Regions from separate parts of the Homo sapiens genome. Here region 1 is linked to region 2. A link means that fine-mapping ties the variant in region 2 to the plasma level of a protein whose gene starts in the linked region. Region 2 holds a variant in brackets. A gene starts in the other region. All regions are shown on one strand. Distances are between the middles of the regions.

Region 1 (16,366 bases), 78 Mb after region 2:
ATCAACAAGTATTTGCTGAGTGTCTCTCTGCCCTCTGCTAGATACTTCAGGTGATGGAAGATTAATATAGGAAAGGATCCCTGCCCTCTGGGAATGTATGGTATAATCTGAAGACATAAAAAAAATACAAACCAGATATATAACACTACTAATTAAATTATATTGGAATTATATCCCATTTTTAGTGACAACCCAAATTTTCTACACAGATTATATCCATATGAGAAAATGGTATTGAGCCTGAGTAGCTTTTAAACAAATTCAGTTTTTTCTTCTCATTCCTATTCCTAGAGATTCTTCTTTTTCATTTTCTTTTTTCTTTATTTTTGGTGGGTATGTGTATATGTATGTATGTATGAATTTAACTGTAATTGATAAATAAAAATTATATATATTTATGGTGTACAACACAATGTTTTGATATATCTATACTTTTGTGAAATGGCTAAATTAAGCTAATTAACATATCAGTGACCTCACATTATTATTTTTTGTGTGATGAGAACATTTACAAGCTACTCTTTTTGCAATTTTCAAGTACAGATGCCCCTCAAGTTACAATGATGTTACATCCTGATAAACCCATCATCATAAGCTGAAAATGTTGAAAGTTGAAAGTGCATTTTCAACTTACGATATTTCCAATTTACAATGGGTTTATCCAAGCATAACCCCATCATAAATCTATACTGAATAAATATGGCTCTTGCACCATGATATAGTCAAAAATCCTAAGTTGAAACATTTTATGTCAGGAATCATCTGTATATAATACATTGTTATAAACTGTAGTGACCATGTGGTACAATAGATCTCTTGAACTTACTCTTCCTAACTGAGACTCTGTATCCTTTGACCAACATCTTCCGAATTCCCACACCTCACCTCCAGTCCTTAGTAACTACCTTTCTACTTTCTGCTTCTATGAGTTCAGTGTTTTTAGATTCCAAATATAAGTGAGATCACATATTGGTCTTTCTATGCCTGGTTTATTTTATTTAACATAAAGTCCTACAGGTTCATCCATGTTGTTGCAAATGACAGGATTTCCTTCTTCTTTTTTGGGTTTTTTTTTTTTTTTGAGACGGAGTTTCACTCTTGTTGCACAGGCTAGAGTGCAATGGCGCGATCTTGGCTCACCGCAACCTGCACCTCCCGAGTTCAAGTGATTCTCCCGCCTCAGCCTTCCTGAGTAGCTGGGATTACAGGCATGTGCCACCACGCCTGGAAAATTTTGTATTTTTAGTAGAGACGGGGTTTCTCCATGTTGGTCAGGCTGGTCTCAAACTCCTGACCTCAGATGATCCGCCCGCCTCGGCCTCCCAAAGTGCTGGCATTACAGGCGTGAGCCACAGTGCTGAGCCAAGGATTCCCTTCTTTTTAAAGACTCAGTAGTATTTCATTGTGTGTATATACCACTTTTTTTTGAAAGCCGTTTGTCCATTGACAGACACCTAGGTTCATTTCATATTTTGGCTATTGTGAATAATGCTGCAAAAAACATGGGAGTTTAGCATTTCTTTGACATACTGATTTCATTTTTTTTTTTTGGCTACATACCCAGTGGTGGGATTGTGTCATATGGAGGAAACTCCATACCATTTTCCATAATGGCTCTACCAATTCGCATTCCCAGCAACAGTGTGCAGTGGTCCCTTTTCTTTGCATCCTTACCAACACTTGTTATCTTTCATCTTTTTATTTTTTTTTTTGAGACAGAGTCTCGCTCTGTCACCCAGTCTGGAGTACAGTGGTGCAATTTTGACTCACTGCAAGCTGCAAGCTCTGCCTCCCAGGTTCACGCCATTCTCCTGCCTCAGCCTCCTGAGTAGCTGGGACTACAGGCACCCTCCGCCACGCGTGGCTAATTTTTTTGTATTTTTAATAGAGACGTGGTTTCACTGCGTTAGCCAGGATGGTCTCAATCTCCTGACCTCGTGATCCGCCAGCCTCGGCCTCCCAAAGTGCTGGGATTACAGGCATAAGCCGCTGCACCCAGCCTTTCATCTTTTTTATAGTAGTCATTCTAACAGGTATGAGGTAATATCTCATTGTGGTTGTAATTTGCATTTCCCTGATGATTAGTCAAATATTTTAAATATACCTGTTGGCCATTTATATGTCTTATTTGGAGAAATGTCTATTCAGGTTCTTTGCCCATTTTTAAATTGAGTTATATGTGTGTGTGTGTGTGTGTACGCGAGTGTGTGTGTGCATTTTGCAATTGAGTTTCTTACATATTTTGCATATTAATCTTCTATCAGATACATGGTTTGTAAATATTTTCTTCAGCTCCATAGGTTGTCTCTTCACTCTGTCAATTGTTTCCTTTGCTTTGGAAAAAGCTTTTTAGTTTGAAGTTATCCCATTTGTTTATTTTTGCTTTTGTTGCCTGTGCTTTTGTGGTCATATACAAAGTCGTTGCCAAGATTAATGTCATGGAGCTTTTTTTTTTTTTTTTTTTTTGAGACGGAGTCTTGCTCTGTCGCCCAGGCTGGAGTGCAGTGGCGTGATCTCGGCTCACTGCAAGCTGTCATGGAGCTTTTTATGTGTGTTTTCTTCTAATCGTTTTATAGTTTCAGGACTTATATTTAAGTCTTTAATCCATTTTCCTTTGATTTATGTATGTGAGACAAGAATCCAATTTCAAGCTTCTTTATATAGATATCCAGTTTTCCCAATATCATTTATTAAAGAGACCCTCCTTTCACCATTGAATGTTCTTGGCATCTTTATCAAAAATCAATTGACTGTAAATGCATGAATCTATTCCTTATCTTTCTACTATGTTTCATTGGTCTAAGTATCTATTTTTATGCCAGTATGCTGTTTGAATTACTATAGCTTTGTAGTATATTTTGAAATCAGGCAGTGTGCTGCTTCTAGCTTTGTTCTTTTTGCTTAAGATTGCTTTGGCTATTCAGGATTTTTTTGTGGTTCTATATGAATTTCAAGATTGTTATTTTTTATTTCTCTGAAAAATGCCATTGAAATTTTGATAGGAATTACATTGAATCTGCAGACTGCTTTGGGTAGTATAGACATTTTAACAATATTAATTTTTCAAATTCATAAATATGGGATATCTTTCAATTCCTTTGTCTTCTTCAATTTGTTTCATGGTTTTCAGTATATAGATCTTTTATCTTTTTGGTTAAATTTATTCCTAAGTGTGTTTTTTTGTAGCTGGTATAATGAGATTATTTTCTTAATTTCTTTTTCAGATAGTTTGTTGTTAGTGTATGAGAAACACTGCTGATTTTTGCATGTTGATTTTGTATCCTGTAACTATACTAAATTCATTTATTAGTTCTAAAAGTTTTTTTTTATGAAGTCTTTAGGGTTTTCTACATATAAGATCATGTTTTAGGGTTTTCTATATATAAGATCATGTTGTCTGAAATCATAGACAAGTTCTTGTGATTTGGATGTCTTTTATTTCTTTCTCTTGCCCAATTACTCTGGCTTGGATTTCCAGTACTGTGCTGCATAGAAGTGGCAAAAGTGAATATCCTTGCCTTGCTCCTGATCTTACAGGAAAAGCTTTCAACCTTTCACTATTGACTATAATGTTAGCTGTGGGCTTATGTATATGGCCTTTATTTTGTTGAAGTTACTTTCTTTCCACACCTGAGGGTATTATTCCTTCCTATTGCCTGAGGGCACTATTCCTTCTTTACCAATTGTTATCATAAAATTATGGTAAAATTTGTCAAATGCTTTTTCTGCATATATTGAGATGATTATATGGCTTTTGTCCTTCATTCTGCTAATGTGTGTATCACATTTATAGATTTTCTTATGTTGAACCATCCTTGCATCCCAGGGGTAAATTACACATGATCATGGTGAATAATCCTTTTAATGTGATGTTGTTGCTTTGTAGTTACTGTGAGACTTAGATAAAACATATAATAGTTATAACAGGCTATTTTAAGCTGATAAAATTTAACTTCAAGGATAAAAAAACTCCACACTTTTACTCTCCCTCCACATTTTATAGGTTTTTAATATTTTTCAGACTTTATGCTTTTGATGTTATAATTTACATCTTTTATATTGTGTATCTGTTAACTTATTGTGGTTATAATTATTTTTAATAGTTTTGTCTTTTAACCTTCATTCTAAAGATATAAGTGATTTATACAGCACAATTATAATATTGGAAAATTCTGAATTTGACTGTATTTTTATTTTTACCTGTGACTTTTATACTTTCGTAGATTTTCATGTAATTAATTAACATCCCTTTCTTTCAGCTTGAAGAATTCCCTTTAACATTTCTTGTAAGGCAGGTCTCGTGTTGATGAACTACCTCAGCTTTTATTTGTTTGGGAAAGTCTTTATCTCTTCTTTATTTCTGAAGGATGGGACTCTTGGTTGGCAGTTTTTTCTCTTTCAACACTTTGAATATATCATCTCACTCTCTCTGGGCCTAGAAGCATTCTGCTGAGAAATCTTGTGATAGCCTTATTGCAATTCTTGTCTGTGATATGCTTCTTTTCTCTTGCTGATTTTAGGATCCTGTCTTTGTCTTTGATTTTTGATAGTTTGATTATTATGTCTTGGTGTAGTCTTTTTTGGATTGAACCTGACTGGAGATTTTTAAGCTTCCTGTACCTGAATATTAATATTTTATTTCAGATTTGGGAAATTTTCAGCTAGCAATCTTTAAATATGCTTTCTGACCCCCTTTTCCTCTATTTTCTCCTTCTTAAACTACTGTAATGTGAACATTAGCTCTCTTTTTTAATTTTTAATTTAATTTTTGTTTTTATTTTTTGAGATGCAGTCTCACTCTGTCACCCAGGCTGGAGTGCAGTGGCATGATCTCAGCTCACTGCAACCTTTGCCTTCTAGGTTGAAGAGATTCTGCTGCCTCAGTCTCCCCAGTAGCTGGGATTACAGGCATGTGCCACAATCCCTGGCTAATTTTTTTGTATTTTTAGTAGAGACTGGGTTTCACCATGTTGGTCAGGCTGGTCTTGACTCCTGACCTCAGGTGATCCACTCACCTTGGCCTCCCAAAGCGCTGGGATTATGGCATGAGCCACTGAGTCTGGCTGAATGTTAGCTCTCTTGATGCTGTCCCATAAATCTTGTAGGCTTTCATCATTTCTTTTCATTCTTTTTTCTCCTCTCACTGTATATTTTCAAAAACCTGTCTTCAGTTCACAGATTCTTTCTTCTGCTTGATCAAGTCTGCTACTGGTGATTTCTACTGCATTTCTCACTTCATTCATTATATTTTTCAGCTCCAATTTCTTTTATGATTTCAATCTTTCTGTTACATTTCTTATGTTGTGCATTTATTGTTTCTCTGATTTCACCAAATTGTTTCTCTGTGTTTGCTTCAAAGTAACTGAGCTTCTTTAAAAACAATTATCTTGAATCCATTGTCAGGCCATTTGTAGTACTCCATTTCTTTTGGGTCAGCTACTGGGAAATTATTGTGTTTCTTAGGTGGTGATATTTTAATTTGGGTTTTCATGTTTCTTGCTGCCTTACACTGCTGTCTGAGCATCTGGTGGATCTGCCCCAATTTCAGGCTGTATGGGCTGACTTTGGTGGAGAAATACCTTCTTATGTGGAATAATGCGAGGATGCTGGCTGGGTGGGATGCAAAAGTTCTGACTTCAGTAGGGGCAAAGCTGTGTGGTCTCCATGCAGATCTGTCAGCTGAGGTTGGTGTTAGTGAATACTACAGGGATCCTTAGAGGCCAACACTGTGGGTATCTACAGTGGCAATGAGGCTGTTGAGGTTTTCAATTGTGACAAGTCCTCCATATCTCTTTTTTTCCCCACCTGGGAAGTCATGACTGAGGACATCCCTCTTGGAATTAGGTCTAACTTGCAGGCCTGCTCCTGGTGGTGGTGACACTGGTGTCTGATGAACAGTGCCCATGGAGTGGCCAAGAGCCAAGGCCTGAAGCATGGGCATGCATGGAGGGACCACAGCACCAGATTCAATTGTAGCAATGGTACCAGTGCCCAAGGCACAGGCATACTTACTATCACATTGATAATGGTGTGTAAAATGCAGGTACTTATAAAGCAGCTAAGGAGCCAGGGACTTTACTGCATGCATACGCAGAGCTACAGTGGCTCCAGGATCCAGGGTGTGGGCTAGCTCTCCTTGGTGGCTGAGCTGGTGACTAGAGCATGGACAGGCACAGAGAAACCTTGACTCTAGGACCCAGGGTGTTCACTAGCTCACTATAGTGGTGGCTCTGGTGTTGGAGGTGTGGGTGTGTGTAGTACAGCCTCAGAGACAGGGTCTGGAGCGCAGGTGTGCACATTACTACAGCAGCTCTGGAGTTGAGAATATGGGTTACCTTTCTACAGTGGCTGAACTAGTGTCTGGAGCAAAGACTTTCACAGAGAGAACTTGGCTTGGGGTCCCAGGGTGAGATCTAGTTCACAACAGCAGTGACTCCAGTGTCTGAGACATGAGGAGGTGCACTGCAGCCACAGAGCCACAGTCCAGAGTGTGAATATCTGTAGAGCAGCCACAACTTTTGGGGATCAGGAACACACATAGACTTGTGAGAGGTGGTAACCCTGGCCCCAGTCCTGGGGCAGTGCAACAATAGCTGCTTCTTGGTGAGGGGGTGTGAGGGGTAGTGCAACTGTGTTTCCCTTTTTAGCATCCTGCTATGGGAATGGCTGTTGGATAAAAGATGCCAGTGTCCTCTGTGGAGCAGGACACTGGGGGCCTCAGTGGCTCTGTGTCACATGACTGACACAGATAGCCTACAAATTTCTTTATTCGTAGCTATCTCCTGGTGTCTCATATATGCCAGTCTCACCGGTGATTCTTCTACATGGATATTCTTTCTTTTCTCCATTGTGTTGTTCCAAATTCTTTAACAGGCTCTTGAGCCCCATCCCCCAACTCCCCACCCTTGTGAGGGCTATTTTGGTTTGTGTATAACTGTCTATGTTTGTTTTTTTGTTGGGGCATAAGGCTGACATCTCCTACTCCACCATCTTGCTAATGTCACCTGCATAGGAATCTTTTTATGCTTTCCTTATATTCACTAAAATTTAACAATATCAAACTTAAAAACATATGATCAATTGAACTTATTAATATCAAACTTATTATAAATAAGAAACTACCAGGCTGGGCATGGTGGCTCATGCCTGTAATCCCAACATTTTGGGAGGCTGAGGTGAAAGGATCACTTGAGCCCAGGAATTCAAGACCAGCCTGGGAAATATAGAGAGACCCTATCTCTAGAGATTTTTTTTTTTAATTAGCCAGTAGTGATGGCACACATCTATAGTCCCAGCTACTCAGGAGGCTGAGGTGGGAGAATTGCTTGAGCCCAGGAGGTCAAGGCTGGAGCAAGCAGTAATCATGCCACTGCACTCCAGCCTGGGCCGCAGAGTGAGACCCTGTCTCAAAAAAAGAACCTACTAGTCTACATACCACACTTCCTCATCCCCATCTGAGACTATATATATTTTTTCTAACATGAGGCAATGCCAAAAAGAGGGGCTGGTGAGTGAAAGTAAGAACAGAAAGACATGGAGGCAAGTCTTATAGAATAATAGCCAACACTTAAACTTACACTTAACAGCGTGATAGGTATTGTTCCAAACACATTAAATTCATTTAATGGTCCTTACATGTCTATGTATTTGGTGATTATTATCCTTATTATTCACATTGCTGAGTGTATTATTCTGTTCTCATGATGCTGATAGAGACATACCCGAGACTGGATAACTTATTAAAAAAAAAAAGGTTTAATGGACTCACAGTTCCACGTGGATGGGGAGTCCTCACAATCATGGTAGAAAGCAAAAGACACGTCTTACATGGCAGCAGGGAAGAGAGAGAAATGAGAACCAAACAAAAGGGGTTTCCCCTTATAAAACCATCAGCTCTCATGCGACTTATTCACTACCATGAGAACAGTATGGGGGAAACCACCCCCATGATTCAATGATCTACCAGGTGCCTCCCACAACCTGTGGGAATTATGGGAGCTACAATTCCAGATGAGATTTGGGTGGGGACACAGCCAAACCACATCACTGAGGAAACTGAGTTATAGGGAGATTAGTAACGCCCAACACAGCTGGTAGGTGGTGGAGCCAGGCAGTCTGACTCTAGGGTCTGGACTCTGAACTGCATCATGCTGCCAAGAAGTTCCTCATTTTTTCCTCTCTCTAAGTTTCCCTTATTCCCCTACAGTCATTCCTTCAACAGCATTTCCTTCACCATCTTTTCTACTTCTACTATATAATTAATTTTTTCTTCTTGGTCCCAAATTCCAACGTGCAAATGCAGCCTTATATACCCTAATTCATCTTTACCTTTAGACTTTCTTCCAATGTTTCTACTTCATTCCATTTTAAATTTATCCATGAGATGCCTATTTACAAGCTGTAACCATCATGAAGTGAATGAAGAATAATACCTACTACTGTACAATAGAATTCCAAGAGTATAAATAGGAGTTATGGCTTTCTGACTTGAAACTAAATACTTGATACTTGATTTTGCTGTCTGAGATCAATCTGAAAAGTAATAATAATCACTAACATTTGTTGAGCATCAATTGTGGGCCAAGTGTCATTTCAATCACTCTGTACATATTAACTCATTTCATCCTACAACAACCCGGTGAGGCAAGTTCTGTTATTCTGTTTTACAGTTGAGGAAACAGAGGCATAGAGAGCTTAAGTAGTTTGCCCAGTAGATAGCCAGAAGAGGAGCCAGGATGGGTCTCGGGCAGTTTAACAGCACAGCTGAAGTCTTAACCACTATGCCAACAGCTTTTTGGTCCTACACATCCCATGGGAAGAGGAAAATAAAAAGGTATCTATTTGTATACCTTTTTATTTCTGATATAAGAAGCAGAATTCCTTTCACATGACCTATGTCTATTTAATACGTCATTTTGAAACTTACCAATAAAATTTCCCAAGCGCCAGAAAACTGTTAGTGGCTTTTTCCATTTCTCTCTATTTTTTTTTGTGCTACTAATTTTGCTTCTTTCCCTCAGAAGGCTGCCGGAATAGTAAACATTCACTGACATGTCATAATTACTGGAAAATGGGCACTGGAAAATCACATTGTAATTAATTCAAAGCATGTTTTCCAAATGTACTACTTTAAATTGGAGCTTATATCATAATCCAAGGAAACCTTTGTGTGTGTACTGTTCCCACATTGCTCAGCCTGGGATATCCAGGAGTAATTCACCTTGCGCCTGCCTCCAGACCATCTTCCATGGAAGGGGGTGACCCCTTGCCTCTTGGCAACCACTATTTCTAAGCTGCCAACATTACTCTTGCATTATCAACATTCTAACTTCATGGGAAGGGCTGTGGTGAGTTTCTGGAATGTGAATAGGAAGTTGTTTTTCTAAACAGCCTGACACTGAGGGGAGGCAGTGAGACTGTAAGCAGTCTGGGTTGGGCAGAAGGCAGAAAACCAGCAGAGTCACAGAGGAGATGGTGAGTTTATTTTTTTCTGCATGGGAAGTGGTTGAAGTGAGTTGGAGTGGTATGGAGTAAAGTCAGGCAGGTAAAGGTTCAGAAAGTGAGGAACAGCGATAGCCATGGAGTTTTATGTTGAATTGCCTATTAGATTTTGTGAGTACTTTTAAACTTGCTGTCCACTTTGACCCTCCCAACACCCTTGTGAGTTGAGGTTGCTATTTCTATTTTACAAATAAAGCCATCGTGGTTTACAGAGGCTGTGTTTTATCTAAGCTTCACTGTTAGGCTACATGATGTTGGGATCTGGGGCCTGTCCTCTGGCTCCGCAGCTGCTGTTCCTCCTACTAGAATTTATAGGGGCTCTCTGAGAATAGATCATGGTAAACCTGTCACCCCATTTTCCAAGACTGTACTTCTCTCTGGGATAAATGATGGAATAAATGGAAGACTGGGTAGGTGCCCTGGGACAAGCTTACAATTGAATAGTTTCTCATCCCCATCCCTCCCATTTCTTTCTGTGAGCCTATGAATCTTCTGGGACTGATCTGGAATATCCACATAGTTTCCTTTTCTGCCCTAAGACTCAATCTTGTTAATGACTCAGTTTCTTCTTCTATAAAATGGATATAGTAATAATACTCTATAGTTTCATCATGAGGATTAAATAAGATTTTGCTGAAAAGCATCCAGATCTGAGCCTGACACATAGTAAGTGATTAGTAAATGTTAGCCATTATTGTTACAATAAAAAGAAAATTCTTAGGAATAGTGGGGTTTAGGATTCAGGGAAGATCCAAGGATAGCTAGGCATTTTGAACTCAGCAATGTTATATGCTCATGGATAAGATGCACGTGGTTAGGCTACTTCTAATTCAGGGAAGATCCAAGGATAGCTAGGCATTTTGAACTCAGCAATGTTATATGCACCTAGATAAAATGCACATGGTTAAGCTACTTCCAATTTTCCTCAGACTTTCCAAGAGTATCCCACATAGTCCCAGGGTCCGAAATCCTGCAGTCTGTGGCTATGGAGGAACCAGGCAGGTCTCTGTTTTTGAGCACCTTTCTGTGGGACTCCAGAAAAAAGTACCGCATACACCTGATTCATCCTACTGCTTTGCTTTACTATAGCACACTTTTCAAGTACTTATAATGTGGGTTTCTGTGTTGGGGAAAACAGGAATAAGAGTATGATAAAGAGAAGAGGAAGGAGTTTGAGCCTGTCTTAAGTTTGAACCACAATGACCTAAGGATATGAATTACTTTTGTCCTGTCTTTTTGCATGTCATACTTCTGAATTGGTTAACTTAAATGAGCAGTTATTCCTCTCTTCCTTCTACTCTCCTTGGCATCCTCCTCTATTTCAAAGGTATGAACTTATTGGATCAGAGAGTTCTTTGAGATTTTGATGAAAGTTACAACTTGTCTTTCCCAGATGAAAGCAAAAACATCGACATAAACACCAACCTTTAGAGACAACCACAGGAGGTTCCCAGACCTCCATGTGGATCCCAGGGTAAGAACCCTTCTCGATTGCCTCCTGGGCTTTATGTTCAGAAGCCCCTCTCTTGGTACCCTGAAATTAGGCTTGAGCTCTACAGCGAAGTGCTAAGGCCCCAGCCCTGGAATGGTTTTTAATATTTCAAAGACAAGACCTCTTCCTTTTCCTCTGAGCACATTTGGCCCCAAAGATTCAGAAACCTCAAACTGCCTGTGTAAATTTTGCTTCAAGTTCAGAGAGTGGCTTTAATTAACTTTTAGGACCTGAGAAAATGAGGATAAGGTTTTTCTGGTGGGGTATTTTCAATCAGATAGATCTCAGAGGAGTAGCTCTTGATTGGGAACTTATAGTTAAATTGCACTGATGTTTGTCAAAGTTTTAGCGGGCTATGGCCGGGCTCAGTGGCTCATGCCTGTAATCCCAGCACTTTGGGAGGCCGAGGCGCATAGATCACTTGAAGTCGAGAGTTCAAGAGCAGCCTGGCCAACATGGTGAAACACCATATTTACTAAACTTACAAAAACTGGCTGGGCATGTTGGCATGTGCCTGTAATCCCAGCTACTCAGGAGGCTGAGGCAGGACAAACTCTTGAACCCAGGAGGTGGAGGTGGCAGTGAGTTGAGATCACACCACTGAACTCCAGCCTGGGTGACAGAGCAAGACTTGTCTCAAAAACAAAACAAAAAAAAAGTTTTAGTGGGCTAAGGAGCAGGTCTGGATTTTCGTCCATTTATACCTTTTAACCACCTTATGTGGCTTCCAGTCCTTACTCTTCTTTTCATTACCTGTTTTTCAAAATGCAACTAAAATAGTTCAGACTCTCCTGGGCTAGCCACCAGCTCTTAGAATGTGCATCTTCAGAGATCTTTAAGTAGAAGCTTATTGATCAAATCCTCAAAAATCAAAATGACTTACTACATAAAAAACTGTGTTTAGAAAAAACCCTGGACCTAAACCTAGAGAGTAGGCACACAGTGGTTTTATAAATGACATTCATTATATTGTCTTCAAGGTGTCTAATCTTTTTGATTAAAAAGTAAATCAGAAACTTCATGAAGTCAAATACAGAGCAAATCCTCACTATTTGTAGAGATATAACTCATCTCTGATCCAATAGACTTTTTAAAAAATTTTAAGTGTCGTACTTTATTTTTAATGCTAATATTTTACTCAAAATAATGGCAATTGGTAGTCTAAATTAAATATATGCTTGGATTCTAAGTGTTGATGTCCTGGGTCCCTTCTTGTCTATATTCATAATTTGCTCTTTGGCTTAGAGACAACCTCTTTTCTCACTGTATTTCTTTTTCCACCCCTAAGCTGGGCTACCAATATCTGTGCCACACCACTAACACCACCACCGTCCAGAAACATAAGGGAACTAATGTATTAGCTGTAATAGCTTGTAACATCTGGGCTTTGCTACCAACAAGTTGTATAGTTCTGCATCCTCAACAACTCTCATATTCACCTCCCCTATTTGCATTCCCACTGATGCCAGACCAAACCTGTCCCTCTTTAACTCTCACTGGGACCATTGCAATAGCCTCTTCTTTTGCAGTGCAATCTCCCTGATTGTAACTCATTTAAAAAAAAAAAAGTATCGCACTACTCTCACCCCTATAATATCAGCATTTTTGGAGGCCAAAGAAAAAGTATTGCTTGAGCCCAGGGGCTCCAGGCCAGCCTGGGCAATATAGTGAGAACTTATCTCTACAAAAAATTAGCCGGGTGTGGTGATGCATGCCTGTAGTCCCAGTTACTCAGGAGGCTGAGATGGGAAGATCACTTGAGGCCAGGAGGTGGAGGTTTCAGTGAACCCAGATCATGCCACTGCACTTCAGCCTGGGCAACAGAGCAAGACCCTGTCCCCCAGCCCCACAAAAAAAATCATACCACCATTAAGTGCATGTGTTCATGATACTTCTCTGTTCAGAAGTATCCCTTCTGCCAACTGGTATTTGTGACCCACAAGATATGGTCTCAAACTACCTTTTCAGTTAACCTCTAGGATCTCCCAATCTTCAGCAGGCTGGAGTGCAGTAGTGCCATCTCAGCTCACTGCAACCTCTGTCTCCTGGGTTCAAGCGATTCTCCTGTCTCAGCCTTCTGAGTAGCTGGGATTACAGGCATGCGCCACCATGCCCAGCTAATTTTTGTATTTTTTAGTGGAGTTGGTTTCGCCATGTTGGCAAGGCTGGTCTTGAACTTCTGACCTCAAGGGATCTGCCTGCCTTGGCCTCATAAAGTGTTGGGATTACAGATGTGAGCCACCGTGCCCAGCTTCCGTTGGCTTATCATTGCACTTAGAATAAAATCTCATCCCCTTGTTTTGGATCCCAAAGCCCGATGTGATCTGTCACTACCCCCGGCTCGTATTTTTCTCTCCATTGCTCATTCCATTCTGGCCACACTAATGTCTTCATGTTCTTTGAACACACTGCAGTTTGCTTCCACCTTAAGGCCTTTGAAATAGCTTTTTCTTCTTCCTTTAATGCTCTTCTTCCTGCTTCTCACTGGCTGGTTTCTTGCAGTCATTCTTCTCTCCACTTAAACATTATCTCATTAAAGAGGTCTTCCCTGACGTTCCTGACCAACATAGTGACACAGTCATTCTATCACATAAGTTTCATTTCCTACCTAGCACTTATGGCTATATTCTGTTAATATTTTTCATGTTTACTTGTTTAGTACTGTTGTGTAGTTATTAGTATTTGTTTCATTGTCTTCTCTACCAATAGAATGTGCATTCTATGAGGACTGGAATTATGTCTGTTTTCACCATTTTATTTGTTCACTTAGCTATTATCACTACTGTAAAAGTAATGCATTCAGTTATAATTATTATGTATTTTTCCAACATTTTCTTATTTAGCATATTTTTGTCTTACTTTCAGTTATTCCTCTGCCATTATTCATTCATATATTTATCCATAAAATGTTTATTGAGTATTGAGTATGTGCCCTACCATGGCTGGGGATTCAGACCTGAGTAAGTAATAGTCCTTGCCCTTGAGAAGCCTCTGTCAGTAGCTTCCTCAGCTGTATGCTCACATGTTTGTTGCGCATTTAAATTGTGGACCTCCTGCTCAAGAGAATATTCAGAAACGGAGATGCTGATTAGAGGACATTGGAAACAGATGACCATAAGGAGGTCATCTTTACTTCCCAGGAAAGCAGAAGAATGAGAAGAGAATAGGGCCATGGAGGTGGGAACCTAGAGAAACACTTACCTCTGCAAGGGAAGGCAGAGGATTGAGGTAGATTCAGAAGAAGACTCAGAAAAGTTTCTCAAACATTAGAGCAGAAGAACAACAGAAGAGCTAAGGGAAGCATTTTAGGCAAAAGGAAGTAGTGGTATTTACTGCTACAGAAAGGTCAAGGAAGATAAGGGTGGAAAGTCTTCATTTGGTTTGGTAATGAGGATGTCAGCAATGAAGTTTGCAGGGACACTTTGATAGGATGGTCGGGCAGTGGGCTGGAGAGTAAGGGGGAGGCAAGGAAGTTAAGAAAGTTTAGCTATAAGAGGAAGGAGAGAAACAGGCAGATGTGGGCAGGAGGACAAAGGGTCAAGGGAGGGACATTGTTTGATTCCGCCTTTCTAAAAGCACAAAGCTGTGGTCTACAATGTAGACAAAAAGAACAAGATCTCCTTTCTGTGGCACTATTCTTGCCAACTTTGTAAGCCACCTGGAACGTGGCAAGCCATGGGACACCTACTAGCCTCTGGTACCTCCTTGTGTGAAAAGTTAGGTCAAGGCATTTGCTTCTTCCACTTTCTCTCTGCTTTTCTCTTCACCCTGCAATCATTATTAGTTTTTTTGCTTGTTTGTTTGTTTTGTTTTTTGAGAAAGAGTCTCACTCTGTTGCCAAGGCTGGAGTGTCTCGGCTCACTGCCACCTCTGCCTTCTGGGTTCAAGCGATTCTCCTGCCTCAGCCTCCCAAGTAGCTGGGACTACAGACATGTGCCACTATGCCTGGCTAATTTTTGCATTTTTAGTAGAGACGAGGTTTTACCATGTTGCCAGGCTGTTCTCGAACTCCTGACCTCAAGTGATCTGCCCACCTTGGCCTCCCAAAGTGCTGGGATTAGAGGCATGAGCCACTGCACCAGCCCAGTTCTTTATTAAAGTAAAATTAAAGATAATCATGGTACTTAATGAAGGCTTACACAGGCACAGGATGTTATTCTAATGACCCAGTCTCTGACTCCTTTCCAGCAACTTCCAGTTGAACCAGCCTTCCAGAGAACATTAAAGACTAGCAGAGCATGTGGATGCTTCTAGAGAGGAATTTCCTCTTGTTTTAGTATTTAACTTGCTTAGTAACACAGGACAGAGCAGCATCCTGCAGACTATAATGCAGAGTAGGAGCAGGTATGAGAAGGCCTGCCCACCCCAAGCAGGTTTCAGAGGAAAACTGTTACTCAAAGAAGATTTTTAAACATCATCCATTCTCCATACCTCCACACAAAATCCCTATCAGTTGCCTTACAGTTAACACAGAATCTTGAACTTGGGCCACATTAAACATGGACAGACTTAGTAGGTCATGAACCATCTGAGATTCTCTAAACTACTGCAAGCATGCATTTGTTTTGAAGAAATCTGACCACGGCTTTTATCAGATTTTCAAAATTCATAAGCCCTGGAAGAATAAGAATAACTGTGTTAACCCTATGCACATTCATGTGAGCAAGCTTGGGCAAATCATTTACGCTCACTGAGTCTCAGTGGTGGGGAGTGGTGGCTGCCCCATCTTAGGCATTCGAAGTCTGAAAGACTTCCTGCAGAACAGCAGATAAATGCTAAGTTGGCTTGGAAGTGACCTTTATGTTCTCCTATAGCTCTGAAATAACCTGTAAGAGGTGAATCTTGGTATTTGGTGATGCATAGAAACAGAAAAGTATGTCAGATTAAAGCAGGGGATGCACACTGACTTGCATTTTCCTTTCTTAGATGTTGTGCCTTCATCAAAAGCACTGTACCAGTCCTCTAAAACCTTCAAATGTTTAAAACAAGTTGTCTCGCTCTCTCTCACTTTGTTTTATCTTGTGTGGTAGAGAATTTGCTGATGAAATTTTGCTTAAAAAAAGTTCAAACAAACAAACAAACAGGTTAAAATGGGAAACATCTCTTTTTGGAAATTTTGTTTAAACCAAATCTTATTTAAAAGTTTAAACAAACAAGTCAAAGCAGGAAACAGTGGGTAGGGTTGGCCACTGTGATGGGAGACTGGGAGCCTCACCGACTCCTTCGCCCTACACACTCTTGTGAGCTGGCCCCAAAGCCAGGGAAATCCCTAGAAATACTCTGTTCAGGGAGAAAACCACTTCCACAGGAAGAGTACCACTAAATTTAAAATCGTTGCACTCCTTCTGCAATCTGTCTGAATAGAGCAAAGCC
Region 2 (16,366 bases):
ACCATTAAAACCAAACCTGACTTTTCTTTTTGACAAACTTCCCTTTCCTTCAAAATCAATAAGCAGTCACAGATAGAATGCATTTCAGAAATTAACCACAGAGACCAGGACTCTGATGGGACAGAATGCCCATAGTCTGACTTTTGATTCTGTCAGTCTTAGGATTTCTTGTGACCCAACATGCAAACTTCCTGCATCTCTAGAAGAGGTGAGAGCTCCCAGGAAGCTATAAAGACCTTAACAACAGGGAAGCATCACTTTTGCAACAACCTGAGGCAAGATGATCTGCTTGTACACACCTTTGTGGACTATGAGGACTGCCAGTCTTGGCCCACTGAACCAGAGCAAGCGTCTCTGGGCCCTGCTGCATGTGGGCATCCATGTGCAGATAAGACATTGGGATCTTTACATACATTCAGGAAAGCTGACTTTTTCATATTACTCTTGGTGTTTTGCCATCAATTATCATCATCTTTATGATAATCAGGCAAACACTAAATGACGAAGTTAGAGAAATCAGGTGATTTGCGTGGTTAACACAATAGTTAGCAGCTTATGTTTGTGACTTGGTTAATCAAACTTTCTACTCCACCAGTTGTCCACACATAGCATTTCCTTGATGGTTTTCTTTTCCTCTATTGTCACTTCTGCAGCACTGGTCTATCCTTCTGCTTCTAGGTAGCTTTGCATATAAGAGCCTCACTTCTGCTTACCAGCAGTATTCGGGGAAAGCATTTCGAACCAACGCTGAGAAAGTGCCTTCCCTGAATAGAGGTCATATGTATATGTTCAAGAAACATTGCTAGATATCAACACACAAAGCCACTAAGCAAAGAATATATTTGTTAAATATAAAGGAATATCAATTTACAGAGGTGGGGGCTTTTTATAGAATCAGTTGCTGATGTAGAGATTTTGTATAATAGTCACGATCACAGTCAAATCTGGATGTAATGTTTATTTAATAGTGTAGATTGTAAATCAGGTAAAAAGTAATTTAACTGTCTCCTTTTTTCCCCTTTTCCTGGAGTCTAGTTTTCTCACGATTCCATCTTCCTAAACTGGTCAATAAAGAAAGAATTTGGTAAAATAATTGTCCTTGGGGTTATTAGTGATTCATTGACTTACACATCTAAAGGATGTTTGTATTTTAAAGTTGAAAACAAGACAGGAAAAGTATTTAACATCAGTAGGGACCTAATTGGAATTCCACACCATTAATATTACTGAATATAACTGGATACTAAATTCTACTGTGAATAAAGTAAAAAGTGTTTTTCTTAATCCAGAGGAATTCAGATAATATCAGGCCATAGGTGATGTACAAAAATTTGTTGACCAAATTAATAAATCAACTAATACTCTATTGTTTTCAAAAATAGGTATTTTATTAAGCTTTAGATGTATCTTGGCCAAAGAATTAAGATTATGAATAATTTTTTATACCTTCTGTGTTTTTTCTTCTTATTTTTAAACTTTCTAAATGTTGGATGTTGACTTATGACTTCATAACTCTACAAAGAAAGTCTTAGTAAACATCCCCCAAAATCAACAATTTGCACATGATTTCTCCAACTATCAAGCAGTAAAATTAAAACCCAATAAGCTATAACCAAAAGTGTACCTGTCTAGGCACAAGTAATATTCTAAATAATCCTTATGTTAAAGAGGGAATCATAAAGGAACTTTCTAAAAACACAGAATAAAATAATAATGCAAGCTACACAAGACTATTTGAAGGATAAAGTGAAGTGTGAAGAAAATAGCTTGCTAAAATACATTCATAAGAAAACATAAATGACTAATAATGACAAAGTAAGCATTTATCTTAAGAAGTTGGGAGAAGAAAAAGGAAACAAGAAAGTTGTGGGTAAAAATAAATATGATAGGGAACCAAATCTTAGAAAAGAATAATATCAGTAAGATAGCAAAAGTCTGGAAAGACCAACTAAAGAAATAAGGAATGGAGACAAAAATATAATGAAAACAGAAAGTTCAAAATAAGTATTACAGACATAAAACAGGCATGATGAAGAATTATGTATAATAAACATTATGGCTTAAAATGAATAATATCTTGGAAAAAATGAAATATAAAAACTGACACATGAATAACATCAATAACAAAAAAATCCAGCTTACACAGCTGCGTACACAATTTACCAAACTTCAAGTGACAAATATACTCTCTCATATATAAGATGTTCCAGAAAGTAGAGAAATGTAAAATGATGCCAACCCATTTAATGAGATTGGTAAACTTTCATTTCAAATTAAATAAATCAAATTTTTAAAAATCACAGGTCCAACTCGATCATGAAAATAGATGCAATAATCCTCAATAAAATATAAGTTAACTAAATCTAAAACTATAGTAAAATTGCACACATCACAATCAAATGGGTTTTATCCCAGAAATTAAAAGATAGGTAATTAGCAAAAATATTTATTAACATAATTAACTACTTTAGAAGCCTAAGAGAAGAATCATGAGGTTATCTCAATAGTTTAAAACTGCATTTGATAATGTTTGGTCCTTATTAACAATAAAAACCCTCAGAAGAGCTGGGTGCAGTGGTGCAGGCCTGTAATCCCAGCTCCTTGGGAGGCTGAGGCAGGAAGATCACTTGAGGCCAGGAGTTCAAAGCTGTAGTGCACTCTGATTGCATCTGTGAATAGCCACTGCACTCCAGACCGGGCAACATAGTGAAATCTCATCTCTACATATTTTTTTAAAAAGTAGAATCTCCTTATTTTGATAGAGGCAATATGCCAAAAACATAAATGCCAAATATAAATGTCAAAAATATACAGCAACCTTGATGAAAACAATTTAGAAAAAAATTATTATGATCAGTTACAAGAAAATGATGCCTAAGAATTCTGACATAACTATGCTATAAAACATGATAAAGGTACCTATAAGACTTGTAAGGAACAAAAAAAGAATAGAAAAATCTTTAACTTTATAGATGATATATTAACTATGTAAACCCAGTAGGATTAAAAAACCATGAAAAAAAATGAGAAATTCAACAAGGCTAGTGGATACAAAGTCATCTTGCAAAATTCAATAGCATTCCAACAATAACAGGCTAGGAAAAAATGTCATTCATAGATTTATTACTGTTGCATATGGTATCTAGAAATCTATCTAACAAAGAATAAAATAAAAACAAAAAATTAAAGCTCTATCAGAATGCATTAAAGAAGATTTGAATAAAGATAATTATAAATAATTGTTTTGATTGGTGTATTAATAGTATATCTGCATAGACCAGGCGCAGTGGCTCACGCCTGTAATCCCAGCACTTTAGGAGGCCGAGGCAGGTAGATCACAAGGTCAGGAGTTCAAGACCAGCCTGGCCAATATGGTGAAACCCCGTCTCCACTAAAAATACAAAACTTAGACGGGCATGGTGGTGCGTGCCTGTAGTCCCAGCTACTCGGTAGGCTGAGGCAGAAGAATCGCTTGAACCTGGAAGGTGGAGGTTGCAGTGAGCCGAGATCATGCCACTGCCCTCCAGCCTGGGTGACAGAGCAAGACTCCATCTCAAAATATATATACATATAGTACATCTGCATAAACATAGAAGAATTTGCAAATAGATCTCTATATTCACAATGTTGTCTGAATCCAAATTCAAGCTGGCACTTTTTATATAATACACAAATTCAGAATTTGTGTACAAATTTATATGGGAGGATAAAGTCTTCAAAGAACTAAATCAATTTTGAAATAAAGACTAAAGAGGGTATGTGATGGACACTGCCCATGGGCGATGTCTACATTTACTTCACCCTCTTGCTAGTCAGGGGCTAGAAAGCAGCAGCTACCTTCCCCAGACTCATCTGCAGCCAATTATCAGGCTGCAAATTAGGCACTGCCCAAGGTAACAGGCCTCTGACAAGCAGGGTCAGAGCAACAGGAGGCTCTCTGCATCCGTGTTCTAGAGGCCATTCTCCAGCCTTCTCTCACACCACATCTGTGATCCCAATGACTGACACACACCAAGGTGACTCCTTGGGAATGCATTTACTTTCACTGAATTTCCTCTTCATTTTGGTTGTTCCTGATGAATTTCAGCTCTTTACCATCTCTTTGTTGGGGCTCAGAAAATGATACTCCAAAATAAAAGCCTCAGAAGCAGCTCTCTTTCTCCTGCCCTCCTCTCTGTGACAACTCTTTCCTACCCAGGGCTAGCCATAGAAATTAGAATCCCTCTTCCCCAAGGTGATTGATAGAAACCAGAACCTCTTTTCCCCAAAGCCAGCCATAAAATTAGTAAGATGACTCTAACTTTCCCTGTATCTTTCTGTGTAAGAACCAGCCATAAAGACATTATCTGACCTACTTTGTCTGACTGTAGGTCATAAGCCCCCATTCCAGAGAGTGTTCTGCCCCATACTCATAAGTAAGGAATGCTGTACAGAGAGGTCGAGAAGAATCTAAACAGACAGAACAAGACTTGCTGGGATTTTCCACTCTGTCTATTAGCATTAGGTCATATCCTTTTTGTCCAATCATATTTCCACATGGCTATCCAAAATTTGTTGAACCTAAGCATAGAAATGGACAGTTTCCTTTGCATCTTTGGGTCTTCATTCTGAGGTTCCTGTGTCACATAAAACGATGATCAATAAATTTGCCTTTTGTCCTATTAATCTGCCTTTTCTCAGCTGATTTCAGAGAACCTTCAGGGAGCAAAGGGGAAGTTTTCCTTTTGCCCCTGCATCTTCTTTGGTATATTTTAAGAGCTTATTGTCTATTTCTCTCTGTGTCATTCCTCCATACTCACTGAGCATAGACATTTCTTCCTAAAATACATGCCACATTGCATTTTTCTCCAGCTTATAAATGTTCACTGCTTACCACTTTCTACGTGCCTTTGAAGGCCCTTCATTATCAGACCCCCAGCTTCATTCTCAACTTCTTCTGCTACTGGAGTCATCTCTGAACAATATGCTCCAATTATTGACAGTAATACCATACACTTGAAACTCATACATTTTCACAGGTTGTCCCTTCAGCTTGGACCATCTTTTCCTGCTTTGTAAGTCTGCCTAACATTTACAGCACAATCCAAATGGCAATTCCTCAAGCATGTCCTTCCTTCCTGCTATCCCAAACCAGAATTCCCTTCCTTCCTTCCTTTTATTTCTACAGTGCGCTGTTTGTGCTTCTGCCTAGAACACATTAGCACCTGCCTTATCTTAAAAAGAAGCCATTGTGGTGTAATGGAAATGACGGATGACTTGACATCATAAATTACATGTAAGATTCATAATTTTATAGCAAAGGCAACCTTGACAAGTTTTAATTCTCTCTCAATTTTAATTATCTGAGCCACGTAATGTCTATTTTTTTAAAGCTGAGTCAGAGTGATTAAGTACGATGTTCTCTGAAGGGGCCTATCCATTTTTAAAATTTGCTTCCATATCCATTTTCCTTCCATGTTTAATTTTTTCTTGCGACCAAGACCATTGTCTTACCTAGGCTTTCCATAAATATTGCTTAACTTTAAAAGAAGGGAAACATTTTTTCTTTAGGGTAAATAATTGAATTTACCTCTCAGCACAATTGTGTCATTTGTCCTCCATCTACTGCCCAGACTCATGCTCATCCTGAACTTTGATGGCCCTTCTCCATCCATGAACCCTTAAGCATTTTTTTTTGTTTGTTTGTTTATTTGAGACAGAGTCTTGCTCTGTCGCCCAGGCTGGAGTGCAGTGGCGGGATCTCGGCTCACTGCAAGCTCCGCCTCCCGGGTTCACGCCATTCTCCTGCCCCAGCCTGCCGAGTAGCTGGGATTACAGGTGCCCACCACCACGCCCGGCTAATTGTTTGTATTTTTAGTAGAGACGGAGTTTCACCGTGTTAGCCAGAATGGTCTCGATCTCCTGACCTCGTGATCCACCCGCCTCGGCCTCCCAAAGTGCTGGGATTACAGACATGAGCCACCGTGCCCAGCCACCCTTAAGCTCTTTAACAAATAGCAATTTACTGAAAGACTAAATGAAGACATCAAGGGACAGCTGAACTATTTAACCTGGTGAAAGGAGACGGTATGAACCATCAGGTGTGGGGAAGCCAATCTGCTGCCTCATAAAGACAGCTTCTCTGACCTACTTTGTTTGACTGTAGGTCATAAGCCCCCATTCCAGAGAGTCCTCTGCCCCATACCCGTAAGTAAGGAACGCTGCACAGAGAGGTCAAGAAGAATCTAAACAGACAGAACAAGACTTGCTGGGATTTTCCACTCCGTCTATTAGCGTTAGGTCATACCCTTTTTGTCCAGTCATATTTCTACATGGTACCCACTGGAGCACAGGAGCGATATGATGAGAGTTTTGCCTTGGGTCTATCAATGTAGTCACGTCATATGCAAGATTGTCTGGAAGGGGACTGGGAGAGCGGACAGAGGAGTGGGATGCTGTAGAGCCCATCATTTAAGATTAAGCAAGATGTAAGAACAATAATGCCTGTTATCTGTACACATTCTATAAATTATGAAGTATTGGAAGAGTGTAAGGCTAAACATTACCAAAAAAGGTGTGACTAAAGTCAAAGGCATTCAAATGCATATCCCGCATCCATAATTTGCAAGGACCTAACTGTTCATTCTCATACCAACCCACGAAGCTGATGGATGGAAAGTTAAGCTCTACACCCACATGAAGAAAAAGAGAAGCAGGAAAATTCAAGTGACAATTGTGTAGGGTTGCCAGATGAAATACAAGATGCACTGCTAAATTTGAATTTCAGATAAACAATGAATAACTTTTTAGTAAAGTACAACCCATGTTATAATGCCCAAAATATTATATGAGGCACATTCATACTAAAAAAAAAAATGTTTTTCTGGAATTTGAATGTGACTTAGCATCCAGTATTTTTGTTTTCTACATCTGGCAACCTATCATTGTTCCAGAGTAAGGCAAGAGAAGGAGCCAACTGGGCGTCACTGTGTGCTCCTAGAGGATGCTGTCTTCAGGCTTAACCTTCTAGAAGCACAATGTACCTCACCATTACAAATGCGTTATGTCCAGCCTCCTTATCTCTGTTCTCTTTCTCCCAAGAAAGGCGGCACCAAGAGTCAAGACTCACCTGAGTTTTCGCAGGAGATAATTTCCCATCTTTTCACAGTGACTCGGTTTCTCAGCTCCTGAGTTTCACTCCACTTGGGGAAGTTCTGACCAAAGCACCAAGAGGAAAATGCATGAGGCAGGACGTTGCATCTGACCACGGGTTCGTGCTCTTGCCAACCACGAGCTGCCAGGGGCCTGCGCATGATAGAGAAGGCAGGAAGAGCTCGAAAGGGGAGGC[A/G]GAAAGGAAAATGTGAGTGTGCGTGTGTGTGCCTGCACGCACACACACACACTCATACACACACGCGTGGGCATACAGTGGGAAAAAATCAGGCTGAAACATGAAAGTGAATCTATCACTCCAGGTTCACTTTGCTTTCAAGGAAATTCTAGTATTGCAAGACGAAACAAGGTAAGGACTTCCCTATTCCTCCGAAGTGAGCATAATAATAAGATTACACAATGCAATAAGAGAGTTGCATTTTTGCTGGAATAAAAGTGATTAATCTGGATTCATGATTTCTTAGGCAAACTGCTCATTACAGAGATCTGAGATCTCAAGATTCCAAATATGTTGTCCTCTTCCAAACATACAAAGAGAAAGCCTCTTCTTGGGGAAAAGAAAAAAACAACGTTAGAAATAAAATTTCTCTTTGTGGCTCTAGCAACGATAATCAGATCAAATGTCAATAGCCTTTCCTCAGAGGTCTGATACTTTCAAAGACAAGATGGGAAAGAAAAAGGAAAAAAAAGGATGAGAATAGAAGGTTATCAAAATTATTTGGGGTAGGTTAAGAAGCCATTGTTCTGGTTGTCAGCTCAAAGACTAACATGACAATGGGGAAAATGCAGGGCCTGGAAGACCTGTTGCCAGCATCTGGTCCCCCACTTCCTCCCCTAGGCTGCCCACCAGAGCCACAAAGCACAAGCTGGTTCTAGTGATAATTTCGAGGCCACAATATCAGCGGCAGGAGATCAGCTAACAGCTGACTCTGAGCCGTGGCTGTCAGGAGACTGAAATCGCTTATTCATGATGTCTCCTGCCGAAGGATTTATACCACAGGTGGTTGATTTTCTTCAGCTTCCAACCAACACAAAATCTATTTGCTGAAATCAGAAACTATATGCTCACCTATTCCAACTCTTTTTTTCTCCCAATGAGGAAATCAGGACTGAGGAAGTTTAATTGACTGTTAACCAGCAGCAGAACTCAGGAGTCTGGAGTGCTTTATCATTATTTATAAGTTTTGTATTGTTTATTTATCGATTATAAACATGAGAAAAATATATTACAAGCAGGAATGTCACACACCCCATTTCAGATTTATGATTTATCTAATTCGTATGTGACAACCTATGTACCAAAGTGCTGCTTCCCAAACTTTCTCATGTAAGCAAATCACCCGAGGATCCTGTTAAAATGCAGATTCTGACTCTTTCAAACTGGGATCAATATTTTGCCTTTCTAACAAGTTCCCAGGTGATGCCACTCCAGCCAATCCATGGAGCGGTAAAGGCACTAAGAAGCGTGTTCCGCCATTGCTGTCCTTGACCAGAAACACCGGCATCTCTGAGAACTTATTAGAAATGCAAACTCTCAAGATCCACCTAAAACCTGCTGAATCAGAAACTCTCAGGGGTGGATTCCTCCTGTTCCCTACTAAAATTTGAGAGCTACTGAAATAAATCTTTGTTTCTCTTATCTGATTACTCACAAATAAGCTCATTAATCCTCAAATGCTCAAGTAAGTAGCTCCATGTTAGTTTTTAGTCACCGAATGACAGAAATGTGGTAACACGAAAGGTTTCCATCTTTTCAGCACCTCTAACTCCCATTCTGTCCCATCCTAGCATAAATTGGTCTGGTAAACAAATCTCCTGGAACTCACGTTCTCCATCTGCAGAATGGATAGGAGCTACGTGAAAGGGAGTCTCAGTAAGCCGTAGGTATCCTGCCATTATTATGGCCATGGCTGCTGTTTGAGAACAAAGACATGCACAATATTCAACTTGATTTAAGTTCTCAATGCCATGTAGAAAATTAAGTACAAATAAGAAAAAATAAAATATTTAAATAACCCAGAATCCTACTACCCTCAACTACCTTCTTGTGCTTTTTTGTTTGTTTGTTTTTGTCTTTGAGACAGGGTCTTGTTCTGTTGCCCAGGCTGGAGTACAATGGCATGATCAGGGCTCAGCTGCAGCCTGTACCTCCCAGACTCAAGCGATCCTCCCTCCTCATCCCCCAAGTAGCTGGGAACACAGGTGTGTGCCATCACACTAGGCTAATCTTTTTTTTTTTTTTTTTTAATTTTAGTAGAGAAAAGGTCTTGTTACGTTGCCCAGGCTGGTCTCAAACTCCTGAGTTGAAGCGATCCTCCTGCCTTGGCCTCCCAAAGTGCTGGGATTACAGGCTTGAGCCACCACATCCAGCCCCCTTGTGAATTCTGGTGCACACATTTATCATCCTTGCTTTGTGAAAACAAACATGCACCCATTGATTTAAAAGTTTCCAAAAATAGGATCATCCTTTGCACATAAGTGTTATCATGCCATAAAATACAGTTTTAAAGACCATTTTCAGCCGGGCGCGGTGGCTCACACCTGTCATCCCAGCACTTTGGCAGGCCGAGGCGGGTGGATCATGAGGTCAGGAAATTGAGACCATCCTGGCTAACACAGTGAAACCCTGTCTCCACTAAAAAAAATACAAAAAATGAGCCAGGCGTGGTGGCGGGCACCTGTAGTCCCAGCTACTCGGGAGGCTGAGGCAGGAGAATGGCGTGAACCCGGAAGGCGGAGTTTGCAGTGAGCCGAGATCGCGCCACTGCACTCCAGCCTGGGTGACAGAGCGAGACTCGTCTCAAAAAAATAAAAATAAATAAAAAATAAAGACCATTTTCTCAGCCAGGTGTGGTAGCATGTGCCTGTAGTCCCATCCACTTGGGAGGCTGAAGCAGGAGGATTGCTTGAGCCCAGGAGTTCGAAGCTGTAGTGTGCAATGATCATGCCCGTGAATAGCTACTGCACATCAGCCTGAGCAACAGAGCGAAACCGTCCCATCATTAGACAAAACAAAACAAAACGAACAAACAAAAATTTATTTCTTTCTTTCCTAGCTTTGTTGATATATTGATATAAAAGAACGTGAATATAATTAATGTACATAATTTGATGAGTTTGGACATATGCGTACATTTATGCTACCATCACCACAGTCAAGGTAATAAAGATATCTATCATCTCCGACAGTTTCCTTGTAGCTCTTCGTGATTTTTTCTTTTTTCTTTTTGTAGTAAGAACAATTAACATGAGATCTACACTCTTGACGAATTGTTAAGTACACAATACCTTATGTTTAACTAGAGATACTATGCTGTAACAATGAGAATGAAAAGGCAACCTATGGAGTGGGAGAAAATATTTGCAAACCGTATATTTAATAAGGGGTTAATTACCAAAAAATTTAAGGAACTCACACAGCTCAATAGCAAAAATAACTAAATAAACAAACATAACCCAATTTTGAAAATGGGCAAAGGTACTGAATAGACACCTCTCCAAAGAAGACATACAAATGGCCAAGAGGTCTTTGAAAAGATACTCAACATCACTAATTATTAGGGAAATATGAATCAAAACCACGATGAGGGCTCTCATACCTGTTAGGATGACTATGATTAAATACATTTTCTTAACATCATTACTAATGGGTGCAAAGTACCCCTTTGCATAATCATCATAATGATAGTTTTCAACCAGTTCTTTTTTTGTTGTTATGTCCAGTTTTTCTGTTGCAATAATGCTACAGTTAATATTCTTACAAATAAATCCTGACAGTATTATTGACAGTGCTTATAATTGTTAATACTAGCTGGCAAATTTGCCTATATAAAAAATTGTACATATTTGTAATATTAAATCTACAACAGGAGTTGCCCACCAGAGGAGTAGGAGATCTTGTCTCAGTCAGTCCTGCAAGGCATGGGGCCAGACCAAGCACGTGCACTGAAACAGGGCATACCTGTTGACAGCGAGTCCCTGCTCATTTGCAGATAATATTGGAACCAAAACCAATTCCTTACCTAAGTACAGGGTAGAGAAACAAACTCTCAAATCTGACTCAATTATTTCATTTTTAAGGAATGACCAATAAGATGAGAATTAACCAATGAAAAAGCTAGCATTTCACCAAATGGGATATTTGGCTTCAAATGTTTTCAATGTCATTGCTTGACTACATTTAAATCTTGTTGTATTTGTTGTATGATAGAAAAAAATTACCTCAAATTTGGTAAAAGGCAAAATGAAGATTGCTTGGTTATTTGTTGTTATTATTTCATACTAAAAAAAGTTCTTTTTTGTTTTTGTTTTGTTTTGTTTTTGTTTTAAGACAGGTCCTGCTCTGTTGCCCAGGCTGGAGTGCAGCGTGTGATCTTTGCTCACTGCAGCTTCAACCTCCCAGGCTCAAGTGATTCTCCTGCCTTGGGCTCCCGAGTAGCTGGGACTACAGGGCATGCCACCATGCCCAGATAATTATTGTTTTTGTTTTTTTTGGTAGAGACAGCGTTTTGCCCTGTTGTCCATGTTTCCATGTTTGCCATGTTGTCTTGAACTCCTGGGCTCAAGCGATCCACCCACCTCTCAAAGTGCTGGGATTATACGTGTGAGCCACCCTGCCCAGACAAGAATTTTCTCATTAGCCTAATTGATCCTCATGTGGAACTTGTGGGGAATGTACCTTTGTGGTCACAATATATTTGCAAATCTAAATGGAAGGTTTCTCTTTATGACACCACTTGCCTGAATATATCACAGCTGAGAGTTGTGTTTCCCTACGTGCAGCTGCCGGGCAGAAGCTGTTATATGAACAGAAACTTCGAAGGATATAAAACCCAAAGCTAATAGTGTTGAAAAACTTGGAGAGGTCTTATTTACCAACTCTTTTAGAATCAGGACCTAACTAAAAATGTTTTCCTGACTGATGAATGATACAATTCGGTTTAACAAGCTGTCTACAGATCTGTGGCCTAATTCTGTCCTTCCAAGCATGCAAAATTTCGACCTTTCATCAGCACAGCCATCATGAGCTCTCTCTCTACAACCTCACATGAAGTTTTCATTCAGCAGCCTGCTTGGTGTGTTTCTTTTAGTGACATGTGGTCCTATCCTTTATCAGTGATCAACTCAGCTTGTTTTTCAATGCTCTGGTGCCCATTGTTTTAATTGTTTGACATAAGAATTAGCAACTTATAAAGGTTCTCTTGTTCACATAAAATTAGAAGTTAAACCAGGGTGACGCACACTTGTAGTCAGTCCCAGCTACTCCAGAGACTGATATTAGAGGATCCCTTGAGCCCAGGAGTTTGAAGCTGCAGTGAGCTATGATCATGCCACTGCACTCCAGCCTGGGTGACAGAGTGAGACTCTGTCTCTAAAAAAATTTTTTTAATAAGATTAGAGGTTAACCTGCAGAAATTGATAAGTTACTACCAATAACTTATGGCTGGTAGAGAAGCAAGTAGTTTTGATTTATTTTAAGTAGAAAGTTAAATAAATTCATATATAATTTAGTAATCTTAGTTTGGGTATTTGTTTCTGGAGTAACTCCATATAAGTCCCTATTATTCAAATGCTTTTAGAACCAGCTCTTTTGACTTTCTGCTTTGTCCACGATAATTACTATAATACAGTGTTCCGCCTTATCCATGGGGGATAATTTCCAAGACCCTCCCAGTTCAGTGGATGCCTGAAACCGTGGATACTACGGAACCCTGTATATACTATGTTTTTCCTATACATACTTATGATAAAGTTTAATTCATAAATTAGGCACAGCAAGAGATTAATAATAAAAAATAGAACAATTATAACAATATACTGTAATAAAAGCTATTTGAATGTGTGTTCTGTCTCTCTCAAAATACCTTATTGTAGTACACTGTGGGTAACTGATAAGGGGGGCTACCATAACAATAAATACTAATATATCAATAACTAATGCTTTGACACATGCTTAATAACAACTTTGAACATCTTGTTCTTATGCTTCCAATTGAAAGACATACTGTACTAGAGACAATTACTTATATTATATCCAAACGATGGGCATTTCTTTAGCCTTGTTTTCAAGGGCACTGATTCTAGCCCTGAGACTGAGTAAGGCCAGCTTGGTGCTCCCTGCTGACTCCGCTGTTGATTAGATCCTGCAGTTAGGGAAGCTAAGGACAGATATTTGGTTGCAGAATATGTGCTTCCTCATATTATTCTGGTCTACAGCTCTACACAGATCCTCTGTCTTCTACCAGGTCTCATGCAGCTTGCTGCCAACTAACTGTAGACAATTACTCCTCCACTGATTATCTGGGGCAAATTCTATTTTTTATTTCCTACGTATTTTACATATTCTTCTTGGTAATTTTATTTTGGACTAAGTAGAATTTTAATAATTCTAGTCAAATAGTCATTAAATTAGAAGCCCTTGTTTGCTAAATTCATGACATTCTTTGTAGAAGAGGAGCTTTCACATCACAGGGGTGACTAGATACTGTAGTTTAAAAAATAACCTGTTTCAGGCTTAGTTTAGGTAAAATTAAAATGTCAAGCAACATCTCCCTTCATGAAGTATGTAGCAAGTAAAATTTAAAGATTTTATTGATACTGAAAATTTCAGGTTTGCATAAACCCAAAACCTAGAGAGCAATTCGCTCTTCTATTTGAGGTATTTGGACACTCAAAGTACATTTAAAAATGCAAAGTCTAGAACAAAATATACCTACAAGAACTGAATGATCCACTTTGGGATTTTCTGTGCAATTATTTCCTTCCACCTTTTCCATATGCTGCTCCTTGGACCACCAGTATTCTACAAGGAGTTACTTTGCATTGAAAATATCATACTGGCATACATTTTCTTTCATTTTCTTTGCTTTTTACTTCTTTCTTCCTTTTTTTAAAAGACAAGGTCTCACTGTGTAGCCCTGGCTGAGATGAACTGGCTATTCCCAGGCATGATCAGAGCATGCTAAAGCTTAGAACTCCTGGGCTCAAATGATCCTCCTGCCTCAGCCTCCCCAGTAGCTGGGACTACAGGTATGCACCACAATGCCCAGCTTGGCTTGCATTTTTTCTAAAATAAATTAGTTGCGGTATGAAAACACAAAAAGCATATTTATTAGTTATTAGTTTGTCTATTCATCTTTTCTTTTTCCTTTTTTTTTTTTCTTTTTTTTTGAGACAGAGTCTCACTCTGTTGCCCAGGCTGGACTGCAGTGGAACAATCTCGGCTCACTGTAACCTCTGCCTCCTGGGTTCAAGCGATTCTCCCTCCTCAGCCTCCTGAGTAGCTGGGACTACAGGCACGCACCACCATGCCTGGCTAATTTTTGTGTTTTTTGTAGAGACAGGTTTTCACCATGTTGGGCAGGCTAGTCTCAAACTCCTGACCTCAAGTGATCCGCCCACCTCAGCTTCCCAAAGTGCTGAGATTACAGATGTGAGCCACTGTGCTCAGCCAGGTTTTTCTATCCATCTTTTCTAGGAGTCCTCTGCCATTCTTAAAAATAGAAATCCCTATTACTGCTCACCTAAGGGTTTTTCTATTTCAAGAAGCAGCCGGGTTTCAGGCCAACATCTCAAATTTGGAGTGTCTGTGTGTTTTTTGACTTGTAGTTTGATTTGAAAACACCATTCATTTTCTGTGTGCAGGAGACCTGATTTTTTATTTGGGCTCCACCTTGGTTCCATCTGCACCCCAGTTTCAGCCATTTGGGGATGAGACTGAGTACTCCATATAGGCCATGATGAGACCGTGCGGAAAATACCGACATATAATGAATAGCTGAATTAGTTCTCAATATTCTACCCCACCAACTGTGATCCATATGACATGGGAGGCCAAACCTACTGCTTTGCTCAAGGATATACCATGGAAACTTGAGTTCTGAGAAGCTCAGTTGCTGGGAAATTGCCAAAAGACATTAATTATAAGCAATGCATTGCTCTAACTAGCAAGAGGCATTTCCTTGTTGTTTTAATAGCTTCAATAGGAAAAAAAAAATTGAAAAAGCTTTTGCAAGAAAATAGTCACAGGATTTATAATTTAAACCAGCATAGGTTTAGACAAAACTATGACCAAATGGGTAAAGAAATGTCTGGATGAAAAAATAAAAGGCTTGAGTAGTGTAACTGTCACTTAAAAGAATATTTGTGTCATTTTTGAAAAAAATTCTTTTCAGCAGTTTCTTTTATTTTTAATACTCAGTAACTCAATGCCTTCTAAACAGAAATAGAGAACATATAAAAATGAGGATATGCAAGACATTACAACTTTCTCAAAGGCTCTTGAGTTTTTTTCCTTGCAGGTGGTTACAGTTTAGGAAATGCATGAATGACAAATATTTGGTAGTGGAGTGATTGTATTCTACGTGAATTGAAAAGAAAAGAGAAACTGCAAAACCCGGAGTGCAGTCTTATCCTTTCTAATCCTTCTGACGCGTTGCAGAAAGCTTGCTCGTTTGCAATAAAGTAAGGCCTCCCTCCCCCACTTGCTCTTGCATCCCCACAGTGGTCACTGCCCCCACCTTCAGTTCATACATCTGCTCACACATCAGCACTCCTTTATTAAGCTGCATCTTCGTGCCCATGCTCGGAAACTGGGGATGCAGAAGAAACAAAGTAGACACCACTGCCTTCATGAGCTTCTATTCTGACAGAACAAGACACATAAGTAAAAATAAGCATGTAGAATGCTTCAATACGTGCTGAACAGTGCTCCGGAGAGAAATAGAGCAGAAGTGGGAAAAGGATAAGTTTGACAATTCGAAGTAACACCATCAGGGAAAATGCCTCTGAGGTGAAGGTTAAGGACAGATGTGAGGCCTCAGCCAAGCACTTGTTAAGAGATGGAAACTGGCTGGGCGTGGTGGCTCAAGCCTATAATCCCAGCACTTTGGGAGGCTTAGGCAGGTGGATGATGAAGTCAGGAGTTCGAGACCAGCCTGGCCAACATGGTGAAACCCCATCTCTACTAAAAATACAAAAAATTACCCAGGCGTGGTAGCACATGCCTGTAATCCCGGGAGGCAGAGGTTGCAGTAAGCTGAGATTGGGCCACTGCACTTCAGCCCAGGCAACAGTGCGAGACTCTGTATCAAAAAGAGAGAGAGAGAGAGACTATTCTAGGCAGAGGAACCAGCAGAGCTAAAAGCAGCATGGCAAGTGAGAGCCTGGCGTTTTTGAGGAGCGAGGAAGCCTGTGAGGCTACAGTAGAGGGAGGAAT

Direction of the effects. Alleles are on the strand shown, and positions count from the first base shown. The strength of an association depends on the size of the effect and on how common the allele is.
As copies of G replace A in region 2, the plasma level of the protein whose gene starts at base 9,422 in region 1 goes down (weak association).

What was found. PIP is the chance, under the fine-mapping model, that this variant and not a neighbour inherited with it causes the effect. Protein levels are from antibody-based Olink assays in UK Biobank. Linkage for the fine-mapping came from a reference panel and not from the study's own genotypes, which makes the PIPs less certain.
Region 1: it holds the start of SELP, and the variant in region 2 is fine-mapped to the plasma level of the SELP protein (UK Biobank, PIP above 0.99).

The regions. Positions count from the first base shown.
Region 1 is chr1:169,623,180-169,639,545 of GRCh38, reverse strand. SELP (selectin P) reads left to right here and starts at 9,422. Exons shown (of 17, transcript NM_003005.4): 1 at 9,422-9,474. The coding sequence starts at 9,472.
Region 2 is chr1:247,539,963-247,556,328 of GRCh38, reverse strand. GCSAML (germinal center associated signaling and motility like) reads right to left here and starts at 7,195. Exons shown (of 5, transcript NM_145278.5): 1 at 7,109-7,195. The coding sequence starts at 7,137. The variant A/G (reference allele first, on the strand shown) is at 7,328.